Homo sapiens: one gene and its partners. The protein of the gene in region 4 purifies or fractionates together with the protein of the main gene of each other region. This does not show direct contact. Each region holds a gene or a part of one and is shown on either strand. Other genes may lie near its edges.

What was found. The genes of interacting proteins can lie anywhere in the genome.
Region 1: the proteins of HVCN1 (region 4) and TANK purify together in Homo sapiens (affinity purification with mass spectrometry; one large-scale study listed by BioGRID and IntAct). This does not show direct contact.
Region 2: the proteins of HVCN1 (region 4) and SLC22A17 fractionate together in Homo sapiens (co-fractionation; one large-scale study listed by BioGRID). This does not show direct contact.
Region 3: the proteins of HVCN1 (region 4) and FAM91A1 purify together in Homo sapiens (affinity purification with mass spectrometry; one large-scale study listed by BioGRID and IntAct). This does not show direct contact.

Annotation. Positions count from the first base shown.
Region 1 is NC_000002.12:161,163,132-161,167,765, reverse strand, and holds part of TANK (TRAF family member-associated NF-kappa-B activator), read right to left. Parts: exon of another isoform or gene 4,405-4,634; coding exon of another isoform or gene 4,313-4,404; intron 1-4,312.
Region 2 is NC_000014.9:23,344,980-23,350,183, reverse strand, and holds the end of SLC22A17 (solute carrier family 22 member 17), read left to right. Parts: intron 1-757; coding exon 758-912; intron 913-1,512; coding exon 1,513-1,678; intron 1,679-1,877; coding exon 1,878-2,023; intron 2,024-2,187; coding exon 2,188-2,293; intron 2,294-2,452; coding exon 2,453-2,670; coding exon of another isoform or gene 2,671-2,724; intron 2,725-2,971; coding exon 2,972-3,083; intron 3,084-3,247; coding exon 3,248-3,536; 3' UTR 3,537-3,866; downstream 3,867-5,204. UniProt on the Homo sapiens protein: Cell surface receptor for LCN2 (24p3) that plays a key role in iron homeostasis and transport.
Region 3 is NC_000008.11:123,785,143-123,789,776, forward strand, and holds part of FAM91A1 (protein FAM91A1), read left to right. Parts: intron 1-486; coding exon 487-599; intron 600-1,352; coding exon 1,353-1,468; intron 1,469-2,118; coding exon 2,119-2,231; intron 2,232-2,521; coding exon 2,522-2,608; intron 2,609-3,058; coding exon of another isoform or gene 3,059-3,091; exon of another isoform or gene 3,092-3,105; intron 3,106-4,470; coding exon 4,471-4,603; intron 4,604-4,634. UniProt on the Homo sapiens protein: As component of the WDR11 complex acts together with TBC1D23 to facilitate the golgin-mediated capture of vesicles generated using AP-1.
Region 4 is NC_000012.12:110,685,628-110,690,802, reverse strand, and holds the start of HVCN1 (voltage-gated hydrogen channel 1), read left to right. Parts: upstream 1-1,687; 5' UTR 1,688-1,723; exon of another isoform or gene 1,724-2,007; intron 2,008-2,094; 5' UTR 2,095-2,178; intron 2,179-5,175.

The sequences.
Region 1 (4,634 bases), on a different chromosome or scaffold from region 4:
TTGTAGTCCCAGCTACTTGGGAGGCTGAGGCAGAAGAATGGAGTGAACCCAGGAAGCGGAGCTTGCAGTGAGACAAGATCGCGCCACTGCACTCCAGCCTGGGTGACAGAGAGAGACTCCATCTCAAAAAACAAAAACAAACAAACAAACAAACAAAAACCTGGTTGCAACAAAGGCCGAATGGAGCAACCCCCCAAGGCAACCTGGAAGTGTGTCCAAGGCAGCTGTCGTCAACCTTTACCCAAATAAATTCCCCATATTAATTTTGCCTCCATTTCTTTAGGTTGACAATAGATACAATATCTTAAGTCTGTTGTCTTTGGCAGCCATTATCCTGCCAAATGACAGCCAACCAATCCTGGATAAAGAAAGTAGTAATCAAGGGTAAGTAGTGGTGCCTCTGGAGCTGCACTGAGGCTGACAGTGTATGAGCCAAATCATGTTCCACCTCTAACTGCCTGTTCAACCAGAACATCTGAGCTTTGATCAGTTATGTATATATACATTGGAATTCCACGTTTGAAGAGAATCAAAGGCTTAAAGGTAGGATTTTCGCCATCTTGACCCCAGGATGATTAGTCATTCTTTAGTAAGGTCTACTTTTTTGTAGGTGGTTGAGACAAGTGTGAGTAATTTGGGAGGCAGGCAAGGCCCCTCTGCTGGGTTTCCCCAACTGCTGAGCCTATTCTGTTTCTGGGTAAATGTTCTGCCAGAGTTCACACTTGTGGTGAGAGACCAACTCAAATCTAAAGCAGTTTCAGGATGGGGAAAGGAAACCACCTTGAATAACTGCTACTCCTTCCACTTTGCCCTAGAAAAGAAAGCCACCAGCCTTTCCCAACCCCTTGGGCTATGAATAAGAGGAGTTCATATTCTATTTCAGAAAAGTTGCCACTGTAGTACATAAAGAGGTGAATCAGTGAATGAAAGACAAATTCTGTGTTTTTGTTTTGTTTTTTGTTTTTTTTTTGAGACAGAGCTTCACTCTGTCCCCCAAGGGTAGAGTGCAGCAAGTGTGGCGGTGCAATCATAGCCCACTGCAGCCTGGACTCCTCGCCTCAAGCAATCCTTCCACCTCAGCCTTCTGAGTAGTTGAGATTATAGGCGTCAAGCCACTGTGCCCCACTACATCTTGGTCTTTTCTGTATCTTAGTTACATGCTTGCCTTCTCACCCACAAAACACATCAGGAGTAAAAAGCAAAAAAATCAGTCAACAACACGACATATACACATAAATAAGACATCTTCTCTTTTGGATGGTTAGGAAGATCTTTAAAGACACTCAAAAATATTAAGTGTGTTTTCCTTACCTGAAGAAAGGAAATGGAAGAGAACTGTCACTACTCACATTTACTTGTGATCATTTTCCACTTTTAAGGAGTTATATAACACAAGCAGCTAATTCCCCAACTGACCTCTTGCATTTCTATTCTCCTTCCACATTGTAAACTTTGGTCATGAATATACCCATAGCATATTGTACTACGCTGTTTCTGTGCTCCATCCAGGCAGCTGATATAATAGAAACCTTAAATATCATAAATCCAGCAGTGTTAGAATTTGAATTTTGTATTTTTCCATAAGCTGGAAGGCTAAATGCAACAGGATAAACAAGACAGTCTCACTGGTTAAACCCAAAGGTCCCCAGTACATGTTCTCCATTTTGCTGGATGTTAGAACTTGGTGAAATTTTCTATGTGATCTTGCAAGAGCTAAAAGATTTCACTGTCAAAGACCACACCCATGAGTCTCAGTTTTGCCTTACTTCCTTTTTTTCTCCAGTAATACTTCTTTCTCTGAGACTATTTATCAAATGTTATGGGTTTAAGTGCACAACTAAACAGTATAACACCAAAAGGGAAAGCAGGCATGTGATGTTCTACTCCTCTGAGGTGAACGTAAACATGGCACTGCTCAGTTGGCTGTGCTGAACTGAGTAATCTTTAAGGGGTATCCTCTCCTCTGACTAGGGGCAATGTTAGAATCTGAAGATGGGGGAGGAAGGATATACAATTTTGAAATAGTTAATATTAAAAATCTATTACATAAATCATATAAAGAAGGACTTTGCATAATATTCACAGATGAGGGAACTAGAAGAGAAAGTCTGTAGTCAGTATGGTGAGGTGTAGAGGAGGAGTAGGACTGTATGGGAAGGAACATGTATTACAATCCTCTAGGATTTGTGAGATTTTAATGTTTATCAGAAAGGAAATATGGATTTTTAAAGGTTGAGAAACAACAATCTCAAGGGAAAGGCATTTCTACTTTTGGGATTCCAAATACTTGAGGTTATGAAACCACATTCCAGTAAATGCCACATAATAAATGGTTGTGAATAGTAAAACCACTTAAATCTCTCACAATAACAGTTGATTTGCTGATTCCAAAAATCCTTCTTCAAGCAATTAAAAAAAATCCTTTATTTTGAAAGAATCTAAGTCTCTAACTTCTGTCCCTTATAGCAAGTCACTCTCTGGAAAAACTATTACCTGATTGGGTTGTTTCGCTGTTCAATAGAACAATTCTCATACTGCAACTATTTCAAAGACTCTCATAAGTTCAACTTGCTAAGTAACCATCAAAATGGAACTCATATTAATTTTCTTTGTCTACTCAATTTCCAGTAATTCCTTACTGCAATGACTTAAAATACTTTGTTGTCAATGTTAGCAACCTATTTTCAGTAGACCCTTCCTTTTGCAAAAAAAAAAAAAAAAAAAAAGTATTGGTGTTAAGTAAAAGCTATTATAGATCACTAGTACTCAAAATGTTTACTCTCATAACTTACTACTGATAATTACCATTTATAGAGAATATATCTCTGAAGGTAAAAAGTTACTGTCCAGGAAATTTTCCATGAGACAAACAATTGCCATCATTTACTTCCCAAACTCTTTTCCTTAAGAAAAATACGTCCCTTTAAAAATGTTTTTCTTGGTTGCATAGCAATGTGAATGCACTTAACATTATTGAACCATATACTTTAAAAAAAGGTTAAGATGGTAAATTTTATGTTATGTGAATTTTACCACAATTTAAAAAGCTTTTATAGATTAGGAATTGGAAAATGTGACACATGTACTACATAAGTCCCAAAGCCTGTTTTCAGTTGCATAGGGCTTGGTACCAGTTACCCTCAACTTATTTGAACAGTGACCAAATACTGCACTTAGTTCAAAAGACTTTGAAAATTAATTAACAACTCACTGAAAAGGTAGTTCATTTCATATTCTGTTATCCCTTCCTGAAGATAATCATAATCTTGGTTCCGAACTATAAAGCGATTTTTGTTACATATCTAAATAATAGCCTCCTCTTTCCCTGTATTTATGATTCAAAACCATGGCAGCAAGCATAGGAGATAACAGGTGGGAAATGGCAGCCACAGCATAAATCCTACAGGAAATAGAAACTAAAACTAGGCTTTACGTAACTGAACACAAACGAACTGCAATTAAACAGTAATATTTTATGCTTATAAGGTGTTAGAAAACAAAAAGGATAAACAGTAACAGTCAATCAGCTAATGCATAGCATCGAAATAGCGAAGCTTTATGTCAACAGTCTATTTTTATTTACCATTTGCTTTTGGACAAAGGTATGGTTTTAAAAAACATGCAGTCTTCTTTCATCATAGGGCAACTCCCCAATTATTTTTGCTATAGTAGCCCATAAATGGAAATAAAATACCCACGCATTCACATAATGCCTGCATCCTACTGTTAGTAACGCTTCAGTGTCTGTAGGTATCCTCCACAGTTCATAGATGCAAACTGCTAAATTACATTACCTGTCTCAGGTCATATTCTTGAAGGTGATCAAAAAGCATTTGAAATAATCATTTATAAAAGTCTATCAAAGATTACACTATTATCGAGGTATTAACAGTAAACCATTAGTCAAGTAAAAAGGTGGGCTTCTGTTAGATGACAGCACTGCCCCATGTGCGTGCACATACCATGCACATACCTGAACTATGCTAATGATTTTCACTTCATGTTAAATAAGTATAAGCATGTTAAGCTTGTATATTTTTTCACCCACTCATTTTGAAACCCTCTGTAGGATTTGGCTACAGTAAAATGTCAGCTTGGTTATTACCTTTAAATTAAGAAATTTCCCGGCAAAATTGGGAAGCTAGTGACAATAAAGTGAAACTGATGCTTTCCCAGTTGAGTTTCACTCTTGGTTTCTTTCAGGGCATAGACAAATTTGCCCATGTAGAAGCAATACCCTTGCTTCTGTAACATAACTGAAGAAGAGAAGAGAAAGAATAGCAAGACATTTTACTTAACAGCCTCAGCCTACCTACAGCATTTTTCCTTGTCCATGAAAAAAAAGTTGTGTGTAGGGGGGAAATAACCAGCATCAGTACAGCAGCTGTTCTTAGTTCTTGACATTACCGTGTCCCAGACTCTTTCATTCAATTGTATTTACTCCAAGGAGTTTTTGTTTGTTCTGAACCATTTTGCTGAGTATTGTTGCTGTCTTAAGAACAATGAACTCCCAGACCCACATGGTTTCATGAGTGAATTCTTTCAGATCTTCAAAGAGCAGAGTTCTTAGGCTATTTAAACTACATCAGAGCGGAGGAAGAGGAACTCTGCCCAGTTCTTTTTAGGAACCAGCA
Region 2 (5,204 bases), on a different chromosome or scaffold from region 4:
TACAGGCACCTGCCACCACACCTGGCTAATTTTTGTATTTTTAGTAAGGATGGGGTTTCACCATATTTGTCAGGCTGGTCTTGAACTCCTGACCTCGTGATCTGCCAGCCTCGGCCTCCCAAAGTGCTGGGATTACAGGTGTGAGCCACTGCGCCCAGCCTGACCATTCTTAATGTATTAATAGACCAATGTCCCACCTCCATGGAACAATGGCCTCATCTCCAAAAATCAATTACTCAGTCCCCTAATATCATTGGCTTTACCTTCACTGACCAGTAGTATCCTCATGCACAAGTGGCCAATGGCCTCCCCTCCACAGGTTAATAGTTCCAACTCCGTATATCAATGAACCCCCCTCCCACATCTCCTCTGAACAGTCTGAGCAAGATAAGCTCCAGGCCCACTGACCATTAGCTCTGTTCCTAAGGATGAATGGTCCCAAATCCCCTAAGCAATATCCCATCCCCTCTGTTGAGTGATGTCACATCCATTGACAAGTGCCCTAATCTCTGACCAATAGCCCAAGAGTCAATGTTCCCACCTCTTAAAGAACCACAACCACACCCCAGTGCCCAGTAGCCAGGCATCACCCACCCATGGTCCCCATCCCTCCCCATCTTCTCAAGCCTCTGTCCAACTCTTGCTCCCAGAACTTCATTCTCATACCTCTAGCTCTGAAGTGTGCAGCTGGGTCTTACCCAGCAACTTTCCCACCACCAGAGAGTCTGGGTGACCAGAAGCCCTTCCCACTTTCTAGATTTGGCCGTCGCGGGATTGTGCTGCTGACCTTGGGGCTGGTGGGCCCCTGTGGAGTAGGAGGGGCTGCTGCAGGCTCCTCCACAGGCGTCATGGCCCTCCGATTCCTCTTGGGCTTTCTGCTTGCCGGTGTTGACCTGGGTGTCTACCTGATGCGTAAGTGGCACCCTCCCAGAATTCCCTCCCTTGGGTCTCATGCCTACCTGCCTGCATCGCCAGGCCATCCTCACTGCCCCCTAGGCCACATTTCAGCTGCCTAGAATCTCAGCTATCTTTCTGCCCAGGCCCCCTTGAAGAATCCAGGGCTCTTGCTTCTCTCTACACCTATCTCCCCCTCCCGACAATCTTTAAAGTCTTTGTCCTGGACTTACTGCTGCCAAGGAATAAGGTGCTATTCCCCTGATAGCAGTAAGTCCAGGGACAAGGATTGTCCCTAGCTGTGTGACCTTGGACAAGGGTTGATGTGAAGGTCAAATAAGAGGCCTGATGGGAAAGGGCCTATAAATTGGAAATGTTGAACACTCACCCAGGACTCTGGCCCTAGAGCCCTCCTAGGTTTGAGCAGGAGAGGAGAGAGGGCTGAACAGTCTCCCCAGTCCTTGCCACCCAGAGGTTAGCAAGGGAGGCAATGGCTGCAGCCTCCACTCTGGGTCTGACCTCTCTCTCTGTCCTCCTCCCTCCCTCTTTCTTCTTCTCTCTTATGCCTTCTTCCTCCCTGGCCTCCCTCTCCTCTCTCCACCCCTGCTGTATCTCCAGGCCTGGAGCTGTGCGACCCAACCCAGAGGCTTCGGGTGGCCCTGGCAGGGGAGTTGGTGGGGGTGGGAGGGCACTTCCTGTTCCTGGGCCTGGCCCTTGTCTCTAAGGATTGGCGATTCCTACAGCGAATGATCACCGCTCCCTGCATCCTCTTCCTGTTTTATGGGTCAGTATTACCCTTCACCTGTCGTCTGGCAATTCCCATCTCTGCCTCCAAACTAGCCCTAGCCCGGAGACCCCTCCTCTTCTCCAACTACCCCTGGTCCAGGCCTACCCCAGCCCCAGTCCCTCAGAGGTGCACATTTCCCACCCCTAGATCAGGAGAAGGGAGGCCTCACAGTATACCCCTTCCCCCCTGCCCCCAGCTGGCCTGGTTTGTTCCTGGAGTCCGCACGGTGGCTGATAGTGAAGCGGCAGATTGAGGAGGCTCAGTCTGTGCTGAGGATCCTGGCTGAGCGAAACCGGCCCCATGGGCAGATGCTGGGGGAGGAGGCCCAGGAGGCCCTGCAGGGTAAGAGACAGGGATCCCTGTGAGTGTTGCCTCACTTGCACACATGATGGTGCCCTCTGCATGGCTGTAGCTGTGCCACCTTCTCCCAGGGTCCCCACCACCCATGTGGGAGGATCCTGGGATCTCAGGGTTTTCTTCTGACAGCTCCTCTCTCTCTCCCAAAGACCTGGAGAATACCTGCCCTCTCCCTGCAACATCCTCCTTTTCCTTTGCTTCCCTCCTCAACTACCGCAACATCTGGAAAAATCTGCTTATCCTGGGCTTCACCAAGTGAGCCTGGGTGTCTGGGCTGAGGGCCAGGCCAGTAGCTGGAATGGGGGCTGGCTGGGTGGGAAGGCCCGGGGACCCCTGCGGAGGACCATCAGCACTGTAGAAGGCTGCGGGAGGGGATTCAGGCTCTGTTCGTTGCTTCCCCACCCCTTCTCACAGCTTCATTGCCCATGCCATTCGCCACTGCTACCAGCCTGTGGGAGGAGGAGGGAGCCCATCGGACTTCTACCTGTGCTCTCTGCTGGCCAGCGGCACCGCAGCCCTGGCCTGTGTCTTCCTGGGGGTCACCGTGGACCGATTTGGCCGCCGGGGCATCCTTCTTCTCTCCATGACCCTTACCGGCATTGCTTCCCTGGTCCTGCTGGGCCTGTGGGATTGTGAGCATCCTATCTTCCCCACAGTGTGGGCTCAACAAGGGAACCCCAACAGAGGTGCTTCAGACAGGCACAGCCATTTCTTCTGGCACAGGCCTCCCAAGACAAGCCCCAGACCCTGCCCAGCTCTTCCACGAGCCTCCACCTGGCCCCACAGCCCCATCTGCTCTCCCAGTCAATTACTGAATGCCCAGAGCCTGCCCAGCTAGAGCCATGGGAACAGAGAGCCAAGGGGATGACACCCGGGACTAGGCCAGCCTTGACCTCCCCACCTGCATTCATATCATCCCTCTTGCTTCTGCAGATCTGAACGAGGCTGCCATCACCACTTTCTCTGTCCTTGGGCTCTTCTCCTCCCAAGCTGCCGCCATCCTCAGCACCCTCCTTGCTGCTGAGGTCATCCCCACCACTGTCCGGTGAGAGCAGGGGTGCCCCCAGGGGCAGAGCCGGGCCCCCTCGCCTCCCGCTCCCCCACCCCACCCCTGAGGACAGGGCCTGCGGGCTGGAGGAGGGGGGCTGCGGGAGAAGGGCCCAGCAAGGCTACAGCTGTGGGCTGAGCTCCTCCTCTGTCTCCCCCCAGGGGCCGTGGCCTGGGCCTGATCATGGCTCTAGGGGCGCTTGGAGGACTGAGCGGCCCGGCCCAGCGCCTCCACATGGGCCATGGAGCCTTCCTGCAGCACGTGGTGCTGGCGGCCTGCGCCCTCCTCTGCATTCTCAGCATTATGCTGCTGCCGGAGACCAAGCGCAAGCTCCTGCCCGAGGTGCTCCGGGACGGGGAGCTGTGTCGCCGGCCTTCCCTGCTGCGGCAGCCACCCCCTACCCGCTGTGACCACGTCCCGCTGCTTGCCACCCCCAACCCTGCCCTCTGAGCGGCCTCTGAGTACCCTGGCGGGAGGCTGGCCCACACAGAAAGGTGGCAAGAAGATCGGGAAGACTGAGTAGGGAAGGCAGGGCTGCCCAGAAGTCTCAGAGGCACCTCACGCCAGCCATCGCGGAGAGCTCAGAGGGCCGTCCCCACCCTGCCTCCTCCCTGCTGCTTTGCATTCACTTCCTTGGCCAGAGTCAGGGGACAGGGAGAGAGCTCCACACTGTAACCACTGGGTCTGGGCTCCATCCTGCGCCCAAAGACATCCACCCAGACCTCATTATTTCTTGCTCTATCATTCTGTTTCAATAAAGACATTTGGAATAAACGAGCATATCATAGCCTGGACTTCCCTCCCTTCTGTTTGTCCTTCTATCTCTTGGGGGAAGGTTTTTCTCAGTGGAATGCACACCGATAACAAGCTCCCCTCTCCCTCCTTGTGCCCTGCCCCCAGTGGTGACTTACAGACAACTGTCACCACTTACTGACTGCTTGCACTGCTGCCAGAACTGGCCTAAGCACTTGACACACTTCGTATCATTTAATTTTTACAGCATTGCAAGGTAGGTGTTTGGATCAATTAGGGGTTGTTGTTGTTGTTGTTGTTGTTGTTTGTTGTTGTAAGCAATAAAAACTGGCTCTAATGAACTTAAGCAAAAAGGGAATTATTCGATTTGGTGGGGCAGGTTGTGGTGGGAGCTCACAGAATGAAGGAGAAGCAGAACTCGTCGTAAAATAACTAGTCAGGAGCGGAGAAGGCTCCTTGTCTGAGGAGCAAAAACCAGCAACATTTTTGTCAGGGCTTCTTCTAGATGAATGAGCTCCAGTGCAATTTAATCTTTGGGTTATCCCACTGAAGATTAATTTCCAGAGAGCATGTCACTGGCTAGCTAGAGTAACATGCCTCCCACACCCCTATTTCTCCCAACTGGGAATAGGTAAAGCAAAATTTGGGCACTGTTAGCAGAAGCGGGACTGGGTGTCACTCAGAAAAAAACAATGGAAGCTCAGTACAGCATTCTTATTCTCTTAAACAAGATGAGAAAACTTATGGTCAGAGAGACTCAGTAACTGGCCCAAGGTTACAAAGCTAATGAGTGGCAAAGCTGAGACATGATTAGATCCCAGAGAGCTCTTCATGGATGCATACTGTAGTCACCTTCCCAACTCTTCTAACTTTTGGGCACATTCCTTGGAAGGCAAGAGTGGGTTCTCTTGGCTCTCTGGAAGGTGGCAGCAGAAAACTGAGACTTCTACCTCAGTGCCAGGGCCTCCCTCTTAAACCACATCTGGTTTGGCTTTACCACTTTGGGCAAATCTCTTAGCTTCCAACTTCCTTTAAGACTTGCTATGAGGATTAAACAAGGTAATGTATCCTAAGTGTCTCTTAAACTACCCCCACTAGGTGTAAGCTGTGTAAACCAAAAATTATCTGAGACAAGTCTCAATCAATTTAGAAAGTTTATTTTGCCAAGGTTAAGGATGCACCCATGATACAGCCTCAGGAGGTCCTGAGGACACGTGCCCAAAGTGGTCGAAGTACAGCTTGCTTTGTACATTTTAGGGAGATGTAATACATCAATCAGTACGTGCAGGATTTACAATGGTTGGATCTGGAAGAGCCGGGACAACTCAAAGGCAGGGCCAGGGGCTTCCAGGCCGTAGTTAGATT
Region 3 (4,634 bases), on a different chromosome or scaffold from region 4:
ACTGGTGATGTGATAACTGAGTGGATTTTACTAGTAGATTTTTATCTTGATAAGCTACTGAGAAACGAAGACATTGAGATTGTTGTTAGCTGTCTGAGAGAACGTGCACAGTAAAGGGGCACTTGCAAAGACAGGAAAGAGCAGGAAAAGGGGCCCTAAATTGGGATTCAAACACATGGACTGAAAAGAGAGCACTCATGCAAGAAGCAGCCCAAGCAGTATCTTGTAGTGAGGTCCGTTAAAGCAACAACTCCTGCTTCATTAGGGGTAGATGTAGGGAGGGCAAGGCCAGAGAGTTGGAAACATTCCCTCCTATACATTTATGAAGACTTCAAGGGAGGAGCAGGTCTACTGAAAATAGTTTCTGGTTACGGGATGAAAATGTTTGAGAATCACTATTAGTCTATTACACTATTTTTTCTCTACAAATATTGTGATGTCTAGTTTATTTTAAATGGTAATTAGTTTCCTTTATATTCCTTTCAGAATGCTGTTTCAATGTATTGCCGATTGGGCTTTGCCCATAAGAAGGGACAAGTAATTAATTTGGATCAACTTCATTCATCATGGAAGAATGTTCCATCCGTAAACAGATTAAAGTAACTTAAATTTATTCAGTATGAGCTATTAGAGTTTCCTTTTGAAAAGACATTTAATTTTACATACATAAATTTATTTATTTATTTATTTATTGAGACAAAGTCTCTCTCTGTCATCCAGGCTGGAGTGCGGTGGCGCGATCTCGGCTCACTGCAACCTCCACCTCCCCGTTTCAAGCGATTTTCATGCCTCAGCCTCCTGAGTAGTGGGGACTATAGGTGTGCACCACCATGCCCAGCTAATTTTTTGTGTTTCTGTTAGAGGTGGGGTTTCACCATGTTAGCCAGGCTGGTGTCGAACTCCTGGCCCCAACTGATCCACCCACCTTGGCCTTCCAAAGTGTTGGGATTGCAGGTGTGAGCCACTGCACCTGGCCCAGAAATTTTATTTATTCAACCTGTCAGTTGAGGTGAGCCCTTTATATTAGTGATTTTTAATCTTGTGTGTGTGTTACAGATCTTTTTTGGAATATAATGAAAACTAAGAAGGCTTTTCCCAGAAAAAAAGCAAATAAATATTTTACATAAAATCTTGAAGGGTTCTTGAATTTTCTGAAGCCTATCCGTGGATCTTAGTTAAGAACCCTTGTTGTATGTAGGCAGAGCATTTTTGGGCTGCGACTTAATTTTGGGCTTGAATATAAGACTGAATTTTGATGGATTGTTCATAATTTAAGTCTTAACTTCAGTAGATATTTTAATGTAAGGTCATTTATATGATTTTTAAAAAGCAAATGCATTCTTCATTAATAGGAGTACCTTAGATCCACAGAAGATGCTCTTGTCATGGGATGGAGGGGAAAGTAGGAGTCCTGTACAAGAAGCTTCATCGGCAACTGACACTGATACAAATAGTCAAGAAGATCCAGGTTAGCAGTAACTCAGTTTAACATAGAGTCTGTCTGTAGGTACGGCACATGTCCAAACATACACTCTTACAGTTACCTTCTAATTTTAGTTTAGATTTTATTCAATACGCAGTCTTTGAGTGTTTTACTATATTTTGGGCACTGTGCTAAGTCCTAGGTATATAAAACTGACAAGAATATGGTACCTTTCTTCTAAGAATTAAGTCTAAGGAGAGAGAAGGGAATGTGACCAAACAAATTACAACAACACGGGCACCAATTATAATGCTTGTAGGGTGCAAAGAGGAAGAGACCCTTAATTGGCTAGAGAGGTTTGGGAAGCCTTCACAGAGAAGATGTTATTTGAGCTAAGAATGAAGAAGAGCCTGCCAGCTGGTCAGGGAAGGAAAGCCATTTCAGCCCGAGAGAATAGTGAGGCTAAGCCCAAAGGGAAACACAGCATAGTGGACAAGGCCTAGGGTTAAATGCTTTTTAATATTCTTTGCGCTTCAAAATAGGTATGGCTGGAACTTCTTATGGCTATAATAGTGCCTTTTTAAAATTATGTACTTTCTGGTTATCAAATAAAGCTGAAATGAAATACTTTCACTCCAAATGGTAAGCAAAGAATAATTTCCATTTACTTGATTTTAAATTATGGTGTTTTTCAGCTGACACAGCCAGTGTAAGCAGCCTGAGTCTGTCTACAGGACACACGAAGCGCATCGCATTCCTGTTTGACTCCACTCTTACTGCCTTCTTAATGATGGGAAATCTTTCACCAGTAAGCCCAATTCTTGTTTAAATATGAAGGTGTTTAAAATAAATACTAGATATAAAATAATTTAATGCTTTTATATCTTTTTTAAAGTACTACATTTATTCCCGAAGCACAACTGACTTAGAGGAGTATAATAACTTTCAGGGAAGGTCCTTTTGTAATTGGAAGAATTAGCCCCTCACCCCCCAATCCTTAAGTTTAAATATATTTGAAAGGATAATATAAATATTTGATAGTATGCTTAGCATAAAAAGGGAGAAGTAGAACTTTAATATTTTGTTTCTTTTTTTCAGAACTTGAAAAGTCATGCAGTCACAATGTTTGAAGTAGGCAAACTCTCAGATGAGTCTCTGGACAGCTTTCTTATAGAACTAGAAAAGGTAAATGTAGATTGCATGTAAGGGGATGTTAGGGCATTTGGAATCTGTCCTTGCTTGACAGAATGCCAATTATACAGTCTGTTGATTTGGATGGGCTTTCAGTGTATTCTTGCTCGTTCCTACCTCATTCCCCAAATTAGTACTCTTACAGTCATTTAGACTTAAACATATTGAGTGGGTGAATTGATTTTGTGATTTTTAAAGTGATATGTCTACCTCATCTAATTCTTAACATAATTTGAGATAATGAAGAAATGGGGTATAGAAATTTTAGTCTGTAATGTTTTAAGTTGAATTTTTGCTAAAATAGCCTTTCAATTTTTTTTCTGGTATGACTCTCTAAGATCACCTCTTAAGCAGTTTGATTTGAAGTTTTTGTTCCATTTACCTTGAATCTGGAACAATATCCCTGGGTATCATATTTATGTCCGCTCTCACTATCCCTTTTAGCATCTTGAAGACTTCAGCCATATTTGCTCTTAACCACCTTTTTCCCCGTGAGTACAGCCCTAGTTTTCCTTAGCTCTAAATAAATCTGATTGCCCTTTATTGGTGTTTTTCATTCTTCGGATATTTTATTCTGGCCTCTTTGTATTCAAATAGTTTGTGTGCCTAATCTGTTCCTTGACTAATACTTTTCGTGCCTTTTGTGCTTTATGATGAACTTTGTATTTTCAATGCACTGTTTAGAGAATTTGTGGTGATTCTGCAACTCCTTTATATCTTAAAAAAAAAAGACTGTAACATTTTTCACTGCTCCTACTCCATAGGATTTTTACTTTTATTAGTGCAGAAATATGTGTGAGATAATCCTTTGCTATTAATTGGTCTCTTTTACTTTTACCTTTATACTGCCATTTATTTCTTCATGCTTCTTTATTTGTTAACCCCATTTCTTATTGTATATTATCTTCTACTAATAAATTTCTTACTATGTTACTGCACATTTCAAGTTCTGGTTTTCTGATTTTTATCTTTTTTTCACCTCAGCTAGTCTTTTATCAAATGTAGCAAATTGCAAGTTGACTTCTGCTCTTTTACTCATAAATCTATGTTCTTTTTCATCACAAAGTCATTCTTGGGAAAGCCTTTCAGTCTGAGGCTTAGTTTTTAAAGTGGATTCTTAGCTATTTTTTAAGTAGTTTGATCTTAAGATTGATTTCTTAAATGTATGCAAATCTGATTTAGTTATTTTCCCGTTGGTAGACCTATCATTCCATTTTCTGTGTTGTTTCTGGGATATATGTCTCTACTTATTAAAAGGTGACTTATTCAGACTTATTCAGAAGAGCATACATTAAACTATAAGGCCAGTGAAGGCAGGGGTTTTGTCCATTACTCTATCCTTATCTCCTAGGGAGGTCATAGTCCATAGGAGGCACTAAGTAAATCTTTGTTGAGTGAATTTAAGCTGTGTGTTCAGCAATGGTGAACAGCTATGTTGAATCACAGACTCCAGTGTCTCTTGTAACTGGTAATACAGAATTGTGAACAAAGTTATGAGAATTATAGGTAAAACTGGTGACCTTGGAGTACTTTCCTAGATGGAGCAGAATACGGGTTTTAGAGTTGTTTAAGCACTCTATTTGAATCATTTGGAACATGTAACATATAATGCTATAACTTAGCATTATTCAATTGCTAAAATTGTTAGTCTTAGTTGAAGTAATTTCTATCTCCATAGATGTAGTAAAATTGGGAACTCAACCAAGACTGAGGTTAATAACTTGTTTCGGTATTGCCTGGGCAAATTTTTGATTTACTACTTTTGAATAATGTCTTATATCTCTATTATATGATTATTAGAGTGAATGGCATAAAAGTGGTATTTTTGTTGCAAAATCTATTTTCTCTTGGTTTAGGTTCAGAGCACTGGTGAAGGAGAAGCACAGAGATATTTTGATCATGCACTTACTCTGAGAAACACAATACTGTTTCTGCGTCATAACAAAGATCTAGTTGCGCAAACTGCACAGCCAGACCAACCCAATTATGGTATGATAAATATATTTAATTTTGAAGACAT
Region 4 (5,175 bases):
AGCCTGGGCCACAGAGTGAGACTGTTGCCGGGTGGAGTGGCTCACACCTGTAATCCCAGCACCTTCGGAGGCCAAGGCAGGCAGATCACTTGAGGTCAGGAGTTCGAGACCAGTCTGACCCACATGGTAAAACCCCGTCTCTACTAAAAATACAAAAATTAGTCAGGCATGGTGATGCTGGCCTGTAATCATAGCTACTCGGGAGGCTTGAGGCAGGAGAATTGCTTGAACCCAGGAGGCGGAGGTTGCAGTAAGCCAAGATCGCACCACTGCACTCCAGGCTGGACGACAGTGAGACTCCGTTCCAAAAAAAAGAAAAAAGAAAAGAAAGCCAGCTGCCCAGCAGAATTGGGGAAAGCCGAGTCAGTTGAAGCAGACAATACCCCTATGGGAGGCAGAAGAATGCACCCCCCTACCAAGATATCCACATCCTAACCCCTCCAAACCTGTATGTTGCCTTAAGTGGCAAAGGGGACTTTGCACATGTGGCTATGTGAAGGATCCTGAGCTGGAGAGATTAGCCTGGATTATCCAGGTGGATCCCATATAATCACAGGGCTCCTTAGAAGGGAGAAGACGCTGTGACCATGGAGGCAGAGGTCGGATTGAGACAGCCAAGGATCACAGGCACCTCTCCAGCCGGGAAAAGCAAGGAACACACTACCCTGGCGCCTCCAGAAGGCACAGCCCCACCCACACCTTGATTCTGGCCCTGTAGGACCCATCTGAGACTTCTGGCCTCCAGGGCTGTAAGATAACACATTTGTGTTAAGCCACTAGGTTTGTGGTGATCTGTTAACAGCGGCATGAGGAAACTAACACAACCCCAAGGAGGTGAGCCTCTCCCCACAGCCCCGACTCAACCGGAAGGGAGAGGTGTGCAGAAGACGGCTTTGCAGGATGTTTGGGACAAATGGTCTCTGGGGGAAGACAGAAGCTAACAGAACTGATTCGACTGTGTGAACAGGGTGCTGGGAGGGCCCACAGGGGAGGGACTTCAGAGCTGGGCCTGCGCCTGCGGGGCCGTACGAGTTGGCCCGGAGCAAGGCGGCCCAGGACAGGCAGGGGCTGCACGCGGTAAGGCTCCCTCTTGCCAGTACCATCCCATGAGCAGCCTCAGAGCCCTCGACCAAGGGAAGTTCTGAGGGCTGAGAGGTTGCTCATTCGTCAGAGCGTGCTGCCCACCCTCCACCCCTGCATGGCAGAAACTGTGCAGGGGACGAGGCCAAGGAATCAGGAGACCCAGAGGCAGGGGTGGCCCGGAGACGGTGGGATGGAGCAGAAGCTCCCCGAAAGGGGTTGGCGGGGTGGATTCGCCCCGCTCCAGCCGGCGGAGGAAGGAAGTGGTTCCCCCGCCCACCCTTCCCTTAGGCTGGCCCGGGGCAGGATTTTTGTGATCCGCGATTCGCTCCCACGGGCGGGACCTTTGTAACTGCGGGAGGCCCAGGACAGGCCCACCCTGCGGGGCGGGAGGCAGCCGGGGTGAGGGAGGTAGGGACGAACGGGTGGACTGACCACAGGCAGGGACAAGGGGACTAAGACCCGGGCCGAGGCCTAGAAGCCCGCCGACCGTTGGGGGTCTGCGGGCTGTGGGGGCGGGGACGGGGGCGGGGGCGGCCCGGGCGGGGGCGGGGCCTGGTACGGTACGGGGCGGGACGGGCTGGGCCGGACCTGCTCTGAGGCTCCCAGTCGCAGCGGTGACCGCGGGCGGGTGGGGCGCCGGGTAAGTGCTCGGGCCGGGCGGGGGGCGTACCCCGTTTGGCGTGCAGCCCTTTCTACAAGACCCCCAGTGCCCGATCCTTCCGAGAAGAGGGGACCCCCCCCCGCATCTCCGCTGTCCAGGCCTCGCCGTGGAGCCCCAGCAGGACCCCAGCCCTCGGTTGCCCTCGGCTCTGGCGTGTCCCGGCGCGGGCGGGCAGTGCTTCCCCTCGGCAGGGACTGGAGTCCAGGGGAGGGGAACGCGGGAGACGCTGGCCCTAGTGACCCCCCGATCCCGGAGAGTTGGTGGTGCGCGCCGCCCTGGGCCAGGTGCCTTCAGTTCTTCACACTCCGCGCAGCAGCCACAGGTGACCATCGTCGTCTCCCTCTTAACAGGTGAAGAAACCAAGACGCAGAGAGGCCAAGCCCCTTGCCTTGGGTCACACAGCCAAAGGAGGCAGAGCCAGAACTCACAACCAGGTCTGTGTCCCCTAAGTCCTCGGATGCATCGTCCCTGCCCCGCTGCCCTCCCGGGAGATTGTAGGAGAGAAGCAGGGGCAGAGGCAGTGCTGGATGTCCCGGGAGAAGGCTGCAATGAGCAGGCCCAGCCATCCCTGAAGGAGGAGCCCCGGGGAAGCAAACTCTTCCCTAGAAACACTTTAAAAGCACCCACCTGTTGGAGACAGAGATGCTGAGGAACAAGAGTGATTGGGGCCAGGGTAAACGCCAAGACAGAGAGGGGAGAGCAGTTCCTCAGTGGAACTCCCTCCAACATTGCCCCCACCACTTTTACCAGTGCTGGGTGTGGGGGATCTTGCAGGCTCAGCTTCGTGACTTGGCCTGTCTCTGCCTCAGTTTCCGCATCTGTCCCATGAGGTTAAGCATGTACCTACCTCGCAGGATTGCTGAGAAGATGATATAAGATGCTTGGTGTACAGGCTTAGCCCCTGGCACCAGGTTACTACCAAAAGTTCATGGTTCCAGTGCTTCCTCCACCCTCCGTCCTGCCCCTCTGAGAGTACTTCTCTGTCCTGGGCACCTTTAACTTCAGGTTGTTCAGGGCTATCTGAGATCTGCAGGATTTCCGGACAGCCCCACCAGCAACTAGGAGCTGCTTGAGTAAGACCAAGGTGAGGGGGTGGCAACTTCTCTGGCTGACTCCCCAGAGGGAAAGGCTGATAAGGGCAGGGTTTTGAAAATCTCTGGGCTGAGGCTTGCACAAGGTCCAGAGCTGCTCTGTGGCCCCTGCCCTCCCCGACACAGGTTTAGCAAGAAGGAGAAAGCCAGAGTGTTCTTGTCCCCAGACTTGATCCTTTGCTAGTCATTGGGGCTTGGGCCCTGGGAGCTGTCATCCACCACCCCGCTCCTCGTCCCTTCCCCACAGTCTAGGCTAGCGACAAGTTCTAACCCAAAGCATATCCTGAATCCGGCCACCCCTCCACCCCCTACTTCCACCCTGAGACCAGGCCGCCAGCATCTCTTGCCGCCTCATCACGCTGGACCCCTCACTTCCATCCAAATCCCCAGCATCGCCTGCCAAGCCCTCTCCATGATCAGGCCCTGTGTGATTATTCTCAATTTTTCTCTCTGGCCACTGTCCTGTCCACTGCTGTCCCCAGCCGCCACCTCCTAAGTACTCCGCTCTCTCAGGGGCTGTGCACAGCACACGTGTTCTTCCTTTTCCCGGGAATGCTCTTCTCTGCAATCTGTGACATACTCCCTTGTAATTCAGGGCACACCATAAATGTCGAGTTGTCCCTGACCACCCCACTTAAGGAGACCCCGCCTGCTCCCTGGCCCCTTACTCTGGCTGGCTGGCTTCCCAGTGCTTAGCTGGGGGGGGGGGGTGTGGTCTGTCTTGTATATTTCCTTGCTTCCTTGTTTGTCTCCCCAGGTAACATGTCAGTCTACCAGGATCGTGATCTTGCCCTTTCCTCTTCACCTTGGATTTCCCAGAACCTGGGAAATCAGTGCCTGGCACCTAGGAATGGCTCAGATAGTTTTGTACAGTTGCAGGCAATGTGTCAGCCATCAGCCTATTTTTCTTCTCACTGCTTGACAGCATTTTTTCTCCCGTTTCTACATAGACTTCAGAATTATCCCTCCCAAGAGCCCACTGCCTTCCTCAGCTTTTCCCTAAAGTAGGGCTTGGGGGTTGAGGGCCACTTCCAGGTTTTAGCCATACTATTCAACTTAGCTATAAATATCATTGTCCATATTGTGCATGTTTTTGGCTATCAAATGGCTTCTTGGAGATACAGTTTCCTAACCAAGGTGTGCAAGTCAAGGGTGGGATCATTTTGGAAGCACTTACCTCTTGTGACCAGGTAGCTATTTAGAAAAATCATCCCCAGGAATGTGTGCACATTTCTCTGCAGCTCTGCAAGCATTGGTTTTTATCCTTTTTATTTGTTTTGGCTAGTTTAATGGAGAAGGGCATGGTAGTTTTAAAGTTTCTGTTGCTTGAATTGCTGAAGCTGAGTGTTCCTCTGCGTGTGTGCTAGTTCTAGCTCCTGTCTTGCAAAGGTAGGAAATCTCCAGGGCACCTTAATTTTTCCCTTCACCTCCTCTTGTGGTGATGGTTCCACTTGAGCCCCTCTCGTGAGAGCAGGTTGAGAATCCCAGGGGGCTGGTATAGGGACATGCAAAGCTGAACTCTGCTGGGTCCAGAAGTTGCTCTGCCAGTCAACCAGCGAGAAAGTCTAAGAGTCCCTTGCACCCTCAGCATGTAACTGTGGGGAGAGAAAGAACCTCTTTAAAGTTTTCTTGAAAGTTTATTTCAAAATAATTTTTTAGAATTAGGCCAGGCACGGTGGCTCATGCCTGTAATTCCAGCACTTTAGGAGGCTGAGGCAACGGATCACTTGAGGTCAGGAGTCTGAGACCAGCCTGGCTAACGTGGCAAAACCCCGTCTCTACTAAAAATACAAAAAAAAATTTTAGCTGGGCGTGGTGGTGGGCACTTATAATCCCAGCTACTCAGGAGGCTGAAGCAGGAGAATCGCTTGAACCTGGGAGACAGAGGTTGCAGTGAGCCGAGATCATACCACTGCATTCCAGCCTAGGCAACAGAACGAGACTCTGTCTCAGGGGAAAAAAAAAATTATAGAAGTTACATAGAGGGATCAGGTGCAATGGCTCATGCCTATTATACTAACACCATGGGAGGCTGAGGCAGGAGGATCACTTGAACTCAGGAGTTTGAGACCAGCCTGGATAACATAGTGAGACCCCCCTTTCTACAAAAATTAGCTGGACTTGGTAGTGTGTGCCTATAGTCCCAGCTACTCGGGAGGTTGAGGTGGGAGGATCGCTTGAGTCCAGGATCTTGAGGCTGCAGTGAGCTCTGATCGCACCACTGCATTCTAGCCAGGGTGACAGAGTGAGACCCCAACTCCAAAACAAAACAAAACAACAACAACAAAAAAAAAAGGGTGTGCAGGGTTATTTATGGAAGCGCTGGGGTGGGAGGAGATT